Linked DNA regions of Homo sapiens: regions 1 and 3 are each linked to region 2. Evidence: fine-mapped expression QTL. A gene starts in region 2. Each other region holds a variant in brackets. All regions are shown on one strand. Distances are from middle to middle.

Region 1 (4,130 bases), 110 kb before region 2:
TATTCTTGTGCCTGGCATAGTGACATCAACCTTTGGTATATCTCTGTATAAACCTAATATTCTGTATAAACCTAATATTTATGGTTTATTCTGTATAAACCTAATATTTGAAAAATGATAGCTATCTCCCAGGTCCTGGGAAAAAATCCGTAAATCTCCAGGGTCCGTGTGAATTATTTTTAAGTAGGTCGAGTGCCCTGAGTCCCTCAACACACATCCCCTTTCCTGTCTTTAATTTCTCAGCTCATCTATCCATGGAAAATGTGATAATGAGGAATATGTAAAGGTGTTGTACAAAGCTCCTGGAAGAACTGGAATCTGACTTTCTAAAGATATTTTTAATGCATAATAATATACTTATGAATTCACTGGCTGTGCAAAGAATCCACGCTGTCCAGCACTCCCATAAACAGGCACAGAATTGCGTTTGTACCTGTCAGTGTTACAGGTTGTTATGCTGATCTGTCGGTGTGAATTTTGCTGTAAATTCCTCATTCTGTGTATGTTGGTTCTAACCAGGCTCGGGATAAAAAATGTAAGTGACTCAGTTCTCTGGATCTTTTCTCTCCTAGACAAAAAGGATGGCTCTGAGCCTCCTGGAGTTGCCAGGCAACCTCCCTATCCCCCCTCTGCCTGCCTTGGGCTGGCTCAGGTGTCAGGGGACTGTTCAGAGAGAACTTTCAACCCCCAGAAAGCTCACCTGAGGCTACAGATGTCCACCAAGCGTACCCACACTTGCTATTCTCTCCTACGTGGGATCGTCTACACCCTGGGTGTGAACTGATTTTGCACTTCGAGTGCAGAAAAATATGTGGGTGTGTGAAAAATAAAGCAAGCACTTGTTATTCCAAAGTGTGAGCTTCAGCTGAGTTAAACATACGTAACATTATAGCGGGAAGACCAACAAACTAAAAACGAGTAGAGATGAAACTTTCTAGAACACGGTCTGGATTCACCCACAAAACATGTATTTGTTAGATTAAGAAAGAAGGAGTCGGCTGGGGGTGGTGGCTCACGCCTGTAATCCCAGCACTTTGGGAGGTCGAGGCGGGGAGATCACAAGGTCAGGAGTTCGAGACCAGCCTGGCCAACCTAGTAAAACCCCGTCTCTACTAAAAGTACAAAAAATTAGCCAGGCGTGGTGGTGGGCACCTGTAATCCCAGCTACTCCGGAGGCTGAGGCAGAAGAATCGCTTGGACCCAGGAGGCAGAAGTTGCAGTGAGCCGAGATTGTGCCACTGCACTCCAGCCCAGGCGACAGTGCGAGAATCCATCTCAATAAAAAAAAGAAAGGAGCACCACAAGGTACTCACAAAGCTATTCAGGCACTGGGACCTGGCCTCCATGCCCCTGAGGAAATTTCTCTGAAGATTTCATTCATCCAAGAATGTATTGAGTGTGAGGTTGAATTTATTGAGTGTGAGTCCAGCGCTGTGACATCCTCCTTGTCCAGTTCACAGTCTGTGGGGTACACCAGGCAAAGACTCAGCTGTGATACAGAGAGATTCAAGTTCTATTTGTGGTGAGGTCAGAGAGCTATGGGAAAACAAAGGAAGGACCTTTCGCAGAGGGAGCATCTGAGAAGACTCACCTAGGAGCGTGATTTGCAGAGCTGAATCCTGAAGGAGTAAACAGAGCAGGAAGTCAAGGTGTTCATCTGAAGGCAACAAAATTGCCAAGTGTTGATTCTTCACCAAAGGGGCTTATTAAAGGGGACCTGGGCGATTCACAGTAGGGCTGGGAGAGCTGAGCCCCACACTCAGTGCTAAGCTTCCAGGAACCCTGTCCAGAACTGGCCTGGTGACAAAAGTGTGGCTGCAGTGGGCGTGCCTGGCACTAGAGCAAACTGCCATGGCTGTGTGTCCCCCACAGACCCTCGGCCGGGTCAGGAGCTCACCCCCGTGACCACTGCTGCCCTGACGCTCCCGCCGGCTCTCTTCCCTCCTTCTGCATGAATCGGAGCCTCAGAGTCCAAGCTCCACGTGGTGGACTCTGGTCATACGCTTATATTTAGCTGCTAGGGAAGCTGTGAGTTTATGTTTTAAGGGTCCCAAATATAGCGAGAG[A/C]GTTTCCAAGGTGCTGAGCACACAGACGATATGACAAAGGCCACCCTCCCAGTGAGGGCAGAAATAGCCACAAGGGCAGACAGCCATGGAAATGCTGCAGGCAGGCGTCCCGTTTCTCCCTCCCTGTGTTCAACAACACAAGTCCGGAACAATGTGTGATGTATTATCGGCCAGCCTTTCACCTTACCAAGCGAGGCATTAAAACACCAAAACAACTCCTGCCACTACAATCCCCTGTCACCTTCAGTCACCAGGATATAGGACATTTTAACACGAGAAAGGAGTGAAGGGCTTAATCTCAGGATCAGAGACAGTTATTTGATGTGCATCAATGTGGCCTCATGAAAATCCTCTGTGCGCTGTCTTTTCTTCTCTCATTTTTCAGGTACCAGTGAAAGCTTCATCGGGACCCACAATGACCTCCAAGCTGGCATTTGGGAGCCTCCATTCATCGGCTGAAACCAGGGGACTGCTGATGGCAGAGGCTAAGCAGGAGAGGGGTATGAATCCTTTTTTTTTTTTTTTTTTTGAGACAGAGTCTTGTTCTGTTGCCTAGGCTGGAGTGCAGTGGCACAGTCTCGACTCCCTGCAGCCTCTGCCTCCTGGGTTCAAGCGATCCTCCCACTTCAGCCTCCCTAGTAGCTGGGATTACAGGAGTGTGCTATCACACCCATCTAACTTTTTGTGCTTTTAGTAGAGATGAGGTTTCACCATGTTGGCTAGGTTGGTCTTGAATTCCTGACCTCAAGTGATCCACCCACCTCAGCCTCCCAAAGTGCTGGGATCATAGGTGTGAGCCACTGCACCTGGCCTGAATCCAATTTTTAACTTATTTTGTATTTTATTTTATTTTAAGACGGAGTCTTGCTCTTGTCGCCCAGGCTGGAGTGCAGTGGCATGATCTCTGCTCACTGCAACCTCCGCCTCTCAAGTTCAAGTGATTCTCCTGCCTCAGCCTCCCAAGTAGCTGGGATTATAGGCACACACCACCACACCCAGCTAATTTTATATTTTTAGTGGAGACAGGGTTTCACCATATTAGTTAGACTACTCTCAAACTCCTGACCTTGTGTGCCCCGCTCACCTTGGCCTCCCAAAGTGCTTGGGATTACAGGTGTGAGCCACCGTGCCTGGCCTGAATCCATTTTAGAAGGACCCTTCTGGGGGCCATGGAGGATCAGCTGATGGGATAAGGCTGGAATTGCAGTTACAGGGAGAGGTGACAGTGCACAGAAGTACAGCAGTAGCTGTGGCGAGGGAAGAAAAGCGATGGAAGGCAGTTGAATCAGACGCCTAATGACCAACTCAATGGGTGGATGCATGAGGGGCTGCTGACCAGGTTTCTACGTATTTTCACCTTTTCTTCTCACTGGCCGTCTCTCAAAGGCCTTTAACCTCAGGTCCATGATCTTCCAGCTACACCTTACATCCTCCCATTCAGAGCCGAGTCCTAGATCTGCTTCCCCTCCTGCTCCCCCATCTGTGTCTTACTCAGCTTCTCCCCACACCACAGCCTCCACCCCTCCTCTCCCCACGTACAGCAAAGCCGTTCAACACAGCTTAGGCCACATTCTCTCAGGACACCAGTGCCTCTTGGCCCAACCCGCTCCTGTCCAGCCAAACGGCAGACTGAGTTGACCCTCCCTCCTCCATCTCTGTCTGCCTTCCCATTCCTGGGACTCTTCGGGCCCAGCCAGGCACTGCCTGAAGGTCCCACGGCCTCTGCCTCCCTGTCTGCCATTCCAGGCTGCTCGCCACTGGCCCGTCTTCTCATCTCTCTTAGTCCATTTGCACTGCTCTAACGAATGCCCAGCGCTGAGTGGTGTCAAGACAACAGAAATGTATTTCTTAGTTTGGAGGCTGGGAGGCCAAGATCACAGCTTGGGCAGGTTCGTGGGCTGGTGAGGGCTGCTCTCTGCTTCCAAGACGGAGCCTTGCTACCATCAAAGGGGAGCAATGCTGTGTCCTCACGGGCAGGGCAGAGGGGCAAGGGTGCCAAACGCTACTTGAAACCTGTTTTTTTGTTTGTTTGTTTTTTGAGACGGAGCTTCGCTCTTGTCACCT
Region 2 (4,130 bases):
ATTACTTTGTTGTTGTGGGGGTGGCATGGGTGCTTGGGGACAAAAGGCATGCTGTGAAGTACCTCTCCCCACCTGGGCCTTTGGTACCCAGAATTAACAAATGGCATGGGTTCTTATTTATTGTTTTATAAGATCACTAAAATGTAGTCTTGGGACAACAGGAAAAAAATAATAATAAAGCTCACAGAAGTGTCCTGGGCTTCTCCGCAGCCGGTCATTGTTCATTTAGTAAACAAGTGAGCCATACAAATCTCTAGGAAGCCAGGTTTGTTCAGTTTATGCGTCCTCCCAGAACTAACTGTTCTTTTGGATAAGCACGGCCCGGGCATTCCACAGACCCACAAACATCAGGCAGTGGGCAATCTGGGGTCCCGCCTAAATATCACTGCCCCCTTACTTTAAGAAATCCGCCTACAAGCAGAAAGCAGAGGTGGAGGAGGGGGATTGGAGAGCGCTGCCTCTTCCCAAGCTTCCCACTCTGAGGGATTTGGCCGAGTCCCGAGGGCACTGAGCAAGGAACCAGGAATATTGTCCTCAGGGCTCCACTGGACATTCCTGGAGTCTGTTTCCTGGGCAGGACGGCCAGGTGAGAGGCAGCCTATTACACTGCATGACCACTGCAATGAGGAACAGTAGAATGTTCCCCAGCGCCTTAAAGTACAGCCGCTGTCCATCCACGGATGTCAAAACGCTCTGCAAACCACCCATTAATTTTTATGGTGGCTTGAGAAGCAGATTGAGAATCATTACCTTCATTTTTACAAGGCAAGGAACCAAAACCACAGAGGGCGGTGAGGATCCAGGCCTCTCCCATCATTTCATCTGGGCCACGGATCTCAAGGAAAGCCCCCAGCCCACTGGGAAGGGGACTCGTGGCCAGCAGAGATTCTGCCCGGGTAGGGAGCAAGGAAAAAACCCAAACTTTGGAGCTCAGAGACGGTCACAAGGGTGAGAAGGGGCGGCTGCATTCAGGGATTCTCTGGTTTAGGCAAGAATGGCTCCAGTTCTAACTTAATGTTCAAATCTGCCAGGCTGTGACAAGGCTGGTAAAAAATGTGGGATTGGGGATGGTTTCCTGTTTGCTGTTTATATTTCTCTTTATCTCTAGCTTTCTGTCCTGAGCATACATTGTTTCTGTAATCAGAACAAAAGTTATGCGAACTTTATTATTATCACGGATAAATTCTATAGTTCCAATCTGCCTACTAACTTGGAAAGAATAAGCAGGAATACAATCTCGCACAGTGTTCTTTTTCAGATCTCATCGATCCATCAGGCTCCACGACCCTCTGCTCGCTGAGTCCGGCGGCTCTCCCGCGGCTCCTCCCGCGCGGCATCTCTGGGCGCCCGACACCCGGTCAGGGCCAGCTGGGCCTGTCCCCAACCCCCGTCTACACCGCAGGCCCCGGGCTAGGAGCCGCGGGACCCAGGGTTGGGGTCCCAACTGACACCCGCCCGTGCCGCGGAGCGGGCTTCTCGGTAAACATCGCTCAGAGAACAACGCGCCTCTATCCCAGCCGGTCCCCGCCCGCGGGCCGCCGGCGCTGTCACCTCGCGGCTGCTCGGTCACCCGATCGCCAAGCCAGAAACCGGAGTTTTCAATTTCATCCTCACAGGAGGGATCTCCGAAGAAGTTGAAATATGCATTGTCACCAACAAGTTTAACCGGAGACCGCGCGTCCTTCCCTCCTCCCCAGCGCCGCTCGAGGGGGGCGCCCCGACCCCTCCACGCCCTCCCGTGGCCCCCACGGCCCCCGTGAGCCGAGCGCGCCCCCCGATTTGCGCCCGAGGACGCGTCCGGTTGCCCAGGGAGGCCACCCCGCAGGGCCGCCCGCCGGGAAGTGGCCAGAGCCGGGGTTGGGGGGCGGCCCGAGCGCACGCGGAGGGCTGCGGCTCGGCGCCCGGAACCCCGGGCCGGGTCCCTGCCCACCAGCACCAGGGAGACCCGAGCGCCCGGGGGAGCGGCGAGGGGCGCGCGAGGCTTCCCCGAAGCCGCCCCACGCCCAGGCACCCGCGCAGCCCCGAACTCAGGCGGCGGTGGCACGATCGGCGCCCGCGGCACGATCTGCGCCCGCAAGGGAGTGCAAAGCCCCCGAGCACGACCCCGCGCCCCCGCCGGCCCCCAGGGCCCTGCCGCCCGAGGCGCTCCCCGCCGCCGCCTGCCTACCTGGCTCGCATGGCGTCCCCGCCGGCTCCTGAGGCTCCGCTCGTCGGCCAGCGGCTCGGCCCAGCCGGGGGCGCGCGCGGCTCCGCGGGACTCACGGCGGCGGCGGCGGCGGTAGTGGCGAGGGGCCCGGACCGCCGAGAGTGCCGGGCGCGCTGGGCCCCCGCCTCGGCGGGCGGAGGGTGGTCCCGCGCCTGGGCGGGGGCGGGGGCGGGGGCGGGGGCGGGGGCGCGGGGGGCGGGGCCAGGACCGGAGCTGAGGCCGCGGAGGGGGTGGTCCCGCGCCGGGGCGGGGCTTCGGGAGAGGGGCGGGGCGGGGCGCGGCCGTCTGAGGCTGGCGAGCGTGGGGCGGGCTGGGGGTGGTGCCGCGGCTCCGGGTCCAGGCGGGTATCCAGTCTGGGCGCCTCCTCTTCTTCCTCCGCCCGGAGCCGGCCAGGGTAGCGGGGCCTTGGCCGCCCGGCATCCTCGGGTCTGGGTCCCCGGTACCGAGCAGGTCTGGGTGCTGGCCCGCGCTCCTGTGCCCCCCCGCACCCCCATCTCCCACCCCTTCTCCGGGAACCCCTAGCGAGGACCCCTGGGGCGGTGCGGTCCCCCCGCGAGCGGGCGTGGGCGAGGGTCGCGCCGCGTTCGGAGACGCTTTACTACACCTTGGCTGAGGACAGTGGAGGGAAGGCAGGCGCGAGGCTGCGGGGGCCGGAGCGAAAGTTACAAACTAACAACAGGGAAGGCAGTCCGGCTGAAAATCATAAAAGGAGGAGAGTTTCCTGCGAAGCGGAATGCAGATTGAAGGGCTCTGGTCGGAATCGTTTACACTTTGTCTGACCTGGGCGCCTCTGGGCCCCCGGCGCGTAAAACAGGCCTGGCACGTAGTAGGCGCTCCATCAATGCCCAGTGAGTGAACGCACCACTTAACTATGTGGCCAGCAACGTCTATGGACCGACACATCTAATCCTAAAAAAAAAAAAAAATCCCAATTTTGGCTAGTCCATTTCACACGAGTAAACTAGAGCTCGGAGGGTTGGTTCGCCACAGAGGAGAAGGGTAGAACCAGAATCTGAACCGAGGCCGACTCCAGAGGCTGGGGTCTAACCACTGCGCCACTGCCTGGGGCCCTCGGGACTGCGCCCACCCCCACCCCGGGAACCCGGAGCCCAGGAGAAAGCGCGGGTCTTTGCCGGGGAAGAAGCCAACATTTGTTGCTCCTGGTCCTGAGCGAGACACACACAGTCAGTCCTCACCATTAACCCCGAGGCAGATATTGTTATTGTCCCCGTTTTTATAGGTGGCTTGAGACGTGCAGCACTATGTTATGATCGCATGGGGCGTGCCAGAGTCTGAATTCAAACCGGGTATGTTCAGACTCCCGAGCCCCTGCGGCTGCCCCTAAGGCCTGCCGCTCCTGCCGTCTGGGAGACCTTCCTTTCCCTAAGGAATCTGGTTTTCTGCCACTCCATTTGAAGTCTGTGTTGAAGTTTCAGGAGACACAGGTGGACAGAGGCACCGACCTAGGGCTCGGGAGAAGGGTGGACATTGCTGTTCCGATTTTGGTGTCATCTGTGTGTAGATCATGGAATTCCTGAAAATGGATACGAGTATCCCTAAAATACATGCCGCAGATTTTGAAAGGAGGCAGTGAGGCGAAGGGGCAGGTGGAGGAAGCAGAGAAGCCTCCGAGCAGAGGAGAGTTTCTGGGTGGCTAGGAGGTCTGATTGGTGTAGGGATGTGTCTGGAGTGTGCTTGAATCTCTGGCAAGTTATCTCGCCTCTCTGTGACTCAGTTTCCTAAATGAGTGTAAAAATGAAAGGCAGCATGTAAAGTGCTCAGCAGACTGCCTGGCACACAGTAGCTTTCAGTAAGTTTTAGCTACTATTAGTACTGCTATCCCAAATGACATCCACACTGTGTTTTTTAAAAAATGCCTATAAAAACATTGAAAAAGACAAGCCAGTAGAAAATGGACAAAAGC
Region 3 (4,130 bases), 100 kb before region 2:
TGGAGGAGGGCGGCGCATGATGGGTGTAGCCTAGCTGGCGGGCCCTAAATCTGTCTGAGCAGCCGCCCCTTCCTCCCTCTTCAGCTCCGCGGTGACAGCAGGGCACGCAGGGCAGAAGAGGGCTTGCACTCCAGAGCAGCAGGAGGGGAGGGGACCCATTCAAATCACGAAGTCGTCCTGGTCCGCAGGGCTGAAGGCGGCTGCTCTCAGAACGTCCAGGGAGTTCACCAAGATCAGAGTCCCAGTGAGGTGCTTCCAGCGCTTGGTGATGGGGTTTTTCATCTTGTCCAGGCCCAGGTGCAGCTCCTGGATGACATCCCGGTAGCTGTCCCCGATCTGATGGCTCCAGGTGAGTAAGAAGTCATACGCAGGCTTCCACATGGCCTGGGAGGTGGAGTTGTAAAAAACAAAAGGAGGGAGAGAGGAAGAAAGATTAGGAGACAGAACGAGATTTGTTCCTATTACTTGGTGCAGCTTCAGTAGTCACTATTTGGGACACTCTTTCACGAGTGAGACAAGCCCACAGAAGAAACAGTGGAACCATCTCGGGGCCAGGGTCAGCACATTCCAGAGGGAAAAGCAGGGCTTTGTGCAAGAGTAGGTGCGCAACAAATGAATAAACAGAAAGGACTTCTCTTTCCTTACAATCTTTATGGCACTTTCTCTCTGTGCCATTTGTTTGGAAATTCATCCCATTCATAAAAGACAGCTTTGTCCTTGGGACTTCCTGCTTCCTGGATCTTGCAAGCCTGAACCGTCTTCCAGGAAGCTTACTAGGGTGCCCTCCACAAACATGCGAGAACACAAAGGACCTCTGAGCAAGAGCCCGGCCACACCGGCTTTGGCCCAAGTTATGTAACATACCAGGTATCACTCCAGTCCAGAGCGGCTCACAAAGTCCTCTGTGTATGTGTTATTGCATTATTCAACCCTACGGATGGTAATTTAAGATCAAAATGAACAAGGGACAGGCAGTTCTGTTTGTCCTTCCCATGTCGTGTGGAACAGCCTTGACATCCTAAAGCCAGGGCTCACGACAACCAATCCGGAGGATGGCTCCCACTCAGTGAGGCACACCCAGTGCTGGGCACATGCGTGCACATTTCCACCTGTTGCACCCTCACAGAAATGCCGCGAGGCAAGACTTTTTATGGCTGCACTGCATGGGTCCACGGAACCCAGGGACAGAGGGGCTCGGTGAGCTCGAAGCTCAGCCGCTGCTCACCTCGCTGTCCACAACCCCGTTCCTGTCCCGGTGGGGAGACTCGTAGGCGTCCATCTGCTGCTTGGAGACCTTGGCCAGCTTCTCAGCCAGCTCCCGCCAGCGCTGGGCCACCTCTACAGCCGTGGTCAGGAGCACAAAGTCCTGGATGAGTCTGACCACCAGGCCCTGGCAGTCCATCTTCAGTAGGGCCTGCAGAGGAAGAGGCACACAGCGTGAGACAGTGTAGGGAGTGGGGCAGGCTCTGCTCCCCGCAGAATTCCAGCAGACGGCGCAGGAATGGCCATGGGCTCTCTATTCTCCATGTTCCCTGGCCTACTACCAAATGTCCCCTGAAATCGATCACTGCCAGGATTCACGGGAGAAAAGAGATGATGTGCAGAGCGTGCCAGGTTCACCAGTGTCTCCCTCCAAAGCCCACATCCACCCAGAACCTCAGAACGTGACCTTACTTGAAAATGGGGTCTTTGCAGATAGAATTAAGATGAGGTCCCTCTGGATTAGAGGAAGTCACCAAGGACTGGCGTCTTCATAAGAAGAGAAAGCAGACAGAGAGGCAGAGAGAAGAAGGCCGTGTGAAGACGGAGGCAGAGACGGGACAGATGCGGCAACAAGCCAAGGAAAAGAAGGAGGGTTGAGCCAGTGGGGCTTAGGAGAGGCAGGCCTGCAACCCCTTCTCCCCCACTGCTTCCAGACGGAGGCCACCCTGGGACCCCTGACTGAGACCTGTGGCCTCCTGAATGGTGACAGGACAGGTGTCTGTTGTTTGATGTCCCTTGGTTTGTGGTCATTTGTCTTGGCAGCCCCAGGAAGCTAACAGACAGGGTGAATATGGATTAGAGTTGTCACCACTCCCACTCTCTGGGGACACCAGAGAGAAACGAATGCATTTCACCAAATAGACACCATAGCCTGAGGCCGAGACGGATGGAGGGCGAGCTGGACCTGCTGAGTGTGCGGTGCTGACATTGGCCAGTTAGAGAGCACCGCGGGTAGAAGGCTGGGGGACTCAGGCAGGGACCACCCAGGGAGAAGAAGACAGAGAACAGAAGAGGCCCTGGTCAGAGACAGGGTGTACCACCAAGAACCACGGTGACCAGGAGATGCACAGACCTCCCCCAGGACTGTGCAACATGAGAAAACGGTTTCCACAATTGGTGGGACTGCTCCCAC[G/A]TCAAAGCTGCAAGAACTTTCTACTGTGTCTTTAGGACAGGGATTACTAACCACAGAGGAAGTCAGAGGGGAGGTAATAGGACAGACAGCCCTGCTGGGACAGTGAAGTCCCAGCTGAGGCTGGAACAACCACGTGGCCGCCTTGGGACTCAATTCCCTCCTAAAAACGGGGGCTGGATGGGACAGGCATTGAACATATGGCTAATATATCTGGGGGACCCCAGGCTGGGGTCAAACTCACACTTCTGGTTTAAAGAAACAAATCAAATTGGCTAGCACAAGACAGCAGGCCTGCTAGTCCTGTACACTGTGCCAAGTCACATGACTGCCACTGGGTGTCATGCAAGCGACTCTGGCGCCATCCTAATTATAAATGAGGCCACACATGGTTAGCGTGTGGCTCTGAGCCAGTCAGGATGACGTCACCAGGAAGGCAGGAGAGCCGCATGCTGGGTCTGATTCTTGTCTGAGTCTCCTCTGCCATAGAAGGCACAGCTCACCCCCACCCTTAAAGCTTTCTCTCATCCAACAATGGGAAAGGCTTGGCTTCCAGGGCACAGTGGCCTGAGGCAGCCCAGAGACGGTTTCTGAGGCTCCCGTGAGCCCCTGGACAGGCGAGTTGCTAAGAGAAGAGGAAAGTCACCAGTCCTGGCGTTCTTTCTCTCTACGCTCTGTTTCAGCACCTGAGGTTGTCATTTTAGGACTCCAAAGTGTGCTAAAAAACAAACAACCCCCCACCCCCGCCAACCACACCGCTGGTACCGGCGCTCTTTGGCCAACTATTTTGTGCCGATAGCAGGGTCGTCTTGCTAGTGCTCATGCGGTCGGCTGGGCTGCTTACTTCAAAGCGAGCCCAGCTGTTTTAGACTGAGCATTCTAATGTACACTTTATGTTTACCTGGGGGGAGTCTAACAATACAAAAAGGTGACCTTTTTGGCGACTTGTGGCATGCATTAGCCAGAGTAGGTGACTCACGATCCTTCTAGGTGGGCCCCCAGCATCTCAATCCATGGAATTTAAAAAGAACCAGGAGCGACAGATCATTCTGATGCCTCCCTAGATATGAGAGGCTGACAGCTGGCTACCAACGAGGCTGGCCAGAAGGGGGTTTGAGGACCTGGTGGCCGTTTGTTTTTGTAGAAGCTACTAGAAACCCAGGGCTAGGCCAGGAGCGGTGGCTCACGCCTGTAATCCCAGCACTTTGGGAGGCTGAGGCAGGTGGATCACGAGGTCAGGAGATCGAGACCATCCTGGCTAACACAGTGAAACCCTGTCTCTACTAAAAGTACAAAAAAAATTAGCCGGGTGTGGTGGCGGGCACCTGTAGTCCCAGCTACTCAGGAGGCTGAGGCAGGAGAATGGCGTGAACCCGGGAGGCGGAGCTTGTAGTGAGCTGAGATCGCGCCACTGCACTCCAGCCTAGGGGACAGAGCGAGACTCCGTCTCAAAAAAAAGAAAAGAAAAAAAAAGAAACCCAGGGCTTGCTGTGAGCCAGACACTCAGCTCCTCCGCTCCCCAGAGCCCCCCATGAAGCAGAGGCTGAGTTCAACCCACTTTACAGAAGAAGCTGAGAGAGGGGAAGTGGGTTTCACACCGAGAAATGCCAGAGCCAGAGCTGCCTCTGGGCACCCAACCCCAGGTCCTCCCTGCTGTGTGGGCCGCAAGGCATCTGTTCTACAGATAAGCACAGGAAGCCTGCAGACCCCAGGCTTGTCCCGGGTCCCACAGCTGGAA

Which allele goes with the higher level. Positions count from the first base shown, and alleles are read on the strand shown. Sizes are in standard deviations (SD) of each study's normalised expression. Not every link is listed here.
As copies of A replace C in region 1, the expression in atrial appendage of the gene that starts at base 2,321 in region 2 goes down (small effect, 0.15 SD a copy in GTEx).

What was found.
Region 1: its variant is fine-mapped to the expression of SH3BP4 in atrial appendage (GTEx, PIP above 0.99).
Region 3: its variant is fine-mapped to the expression of SH3BP4 in whole blood (TOPMed, PIP above 0.99).

Annotation. Positions count from the first base shown.
Region 1 is chr2:235,061,621-235,065,750 of GRCh38, reverse strand. No RefSeq gene overlaps it. Among named protein-coding and RNA genes, the nearest start is that of SH3BP4, 110 kb to the right of the region's middle. RefSeq lists an enhancer at 3,272-3,772. The variant A/C (reference allele first, on the strand shown) is at 2,067.
Region 2 is chr2:234,950,208-234,954,337 of GRCh38, reverse strand. It overlaps SH3BP4 (SH3 domain binding protein 4), which reads right to left and starts at 2,321. Exons shown (of 6, transcript NM_014521.3): 1 at 2,168-2,321. LOC105373938 (a long non-coding RNA gene) reads right to left here. Exons shown (of 7, transcript XR_007088132.1): 6 at 2,987-3,740; 7 at 2,539-2,899. RefSeq lists an enhancer at 1,219-1,868.
Region 3 is chr2:235,049,846-235,053,975 of GRCh38, reverse strand. It overlaps SH3BP4 (SH3 domain binding protein 4), which reads right to left. Exons shown (of 6, transcript NM_014521.3): 5 at 1,226-1,414; 6 at 1-384. The coding sequence ends at 160. Among named protein-coding and RNA genes, the nearest start is that of SH3BP4, 100 kb to the right of the region's middle. RefSeq lists an enhancer at 740-1,701. The variant G/A (reference allele first, on the strand shown) is at 2,396.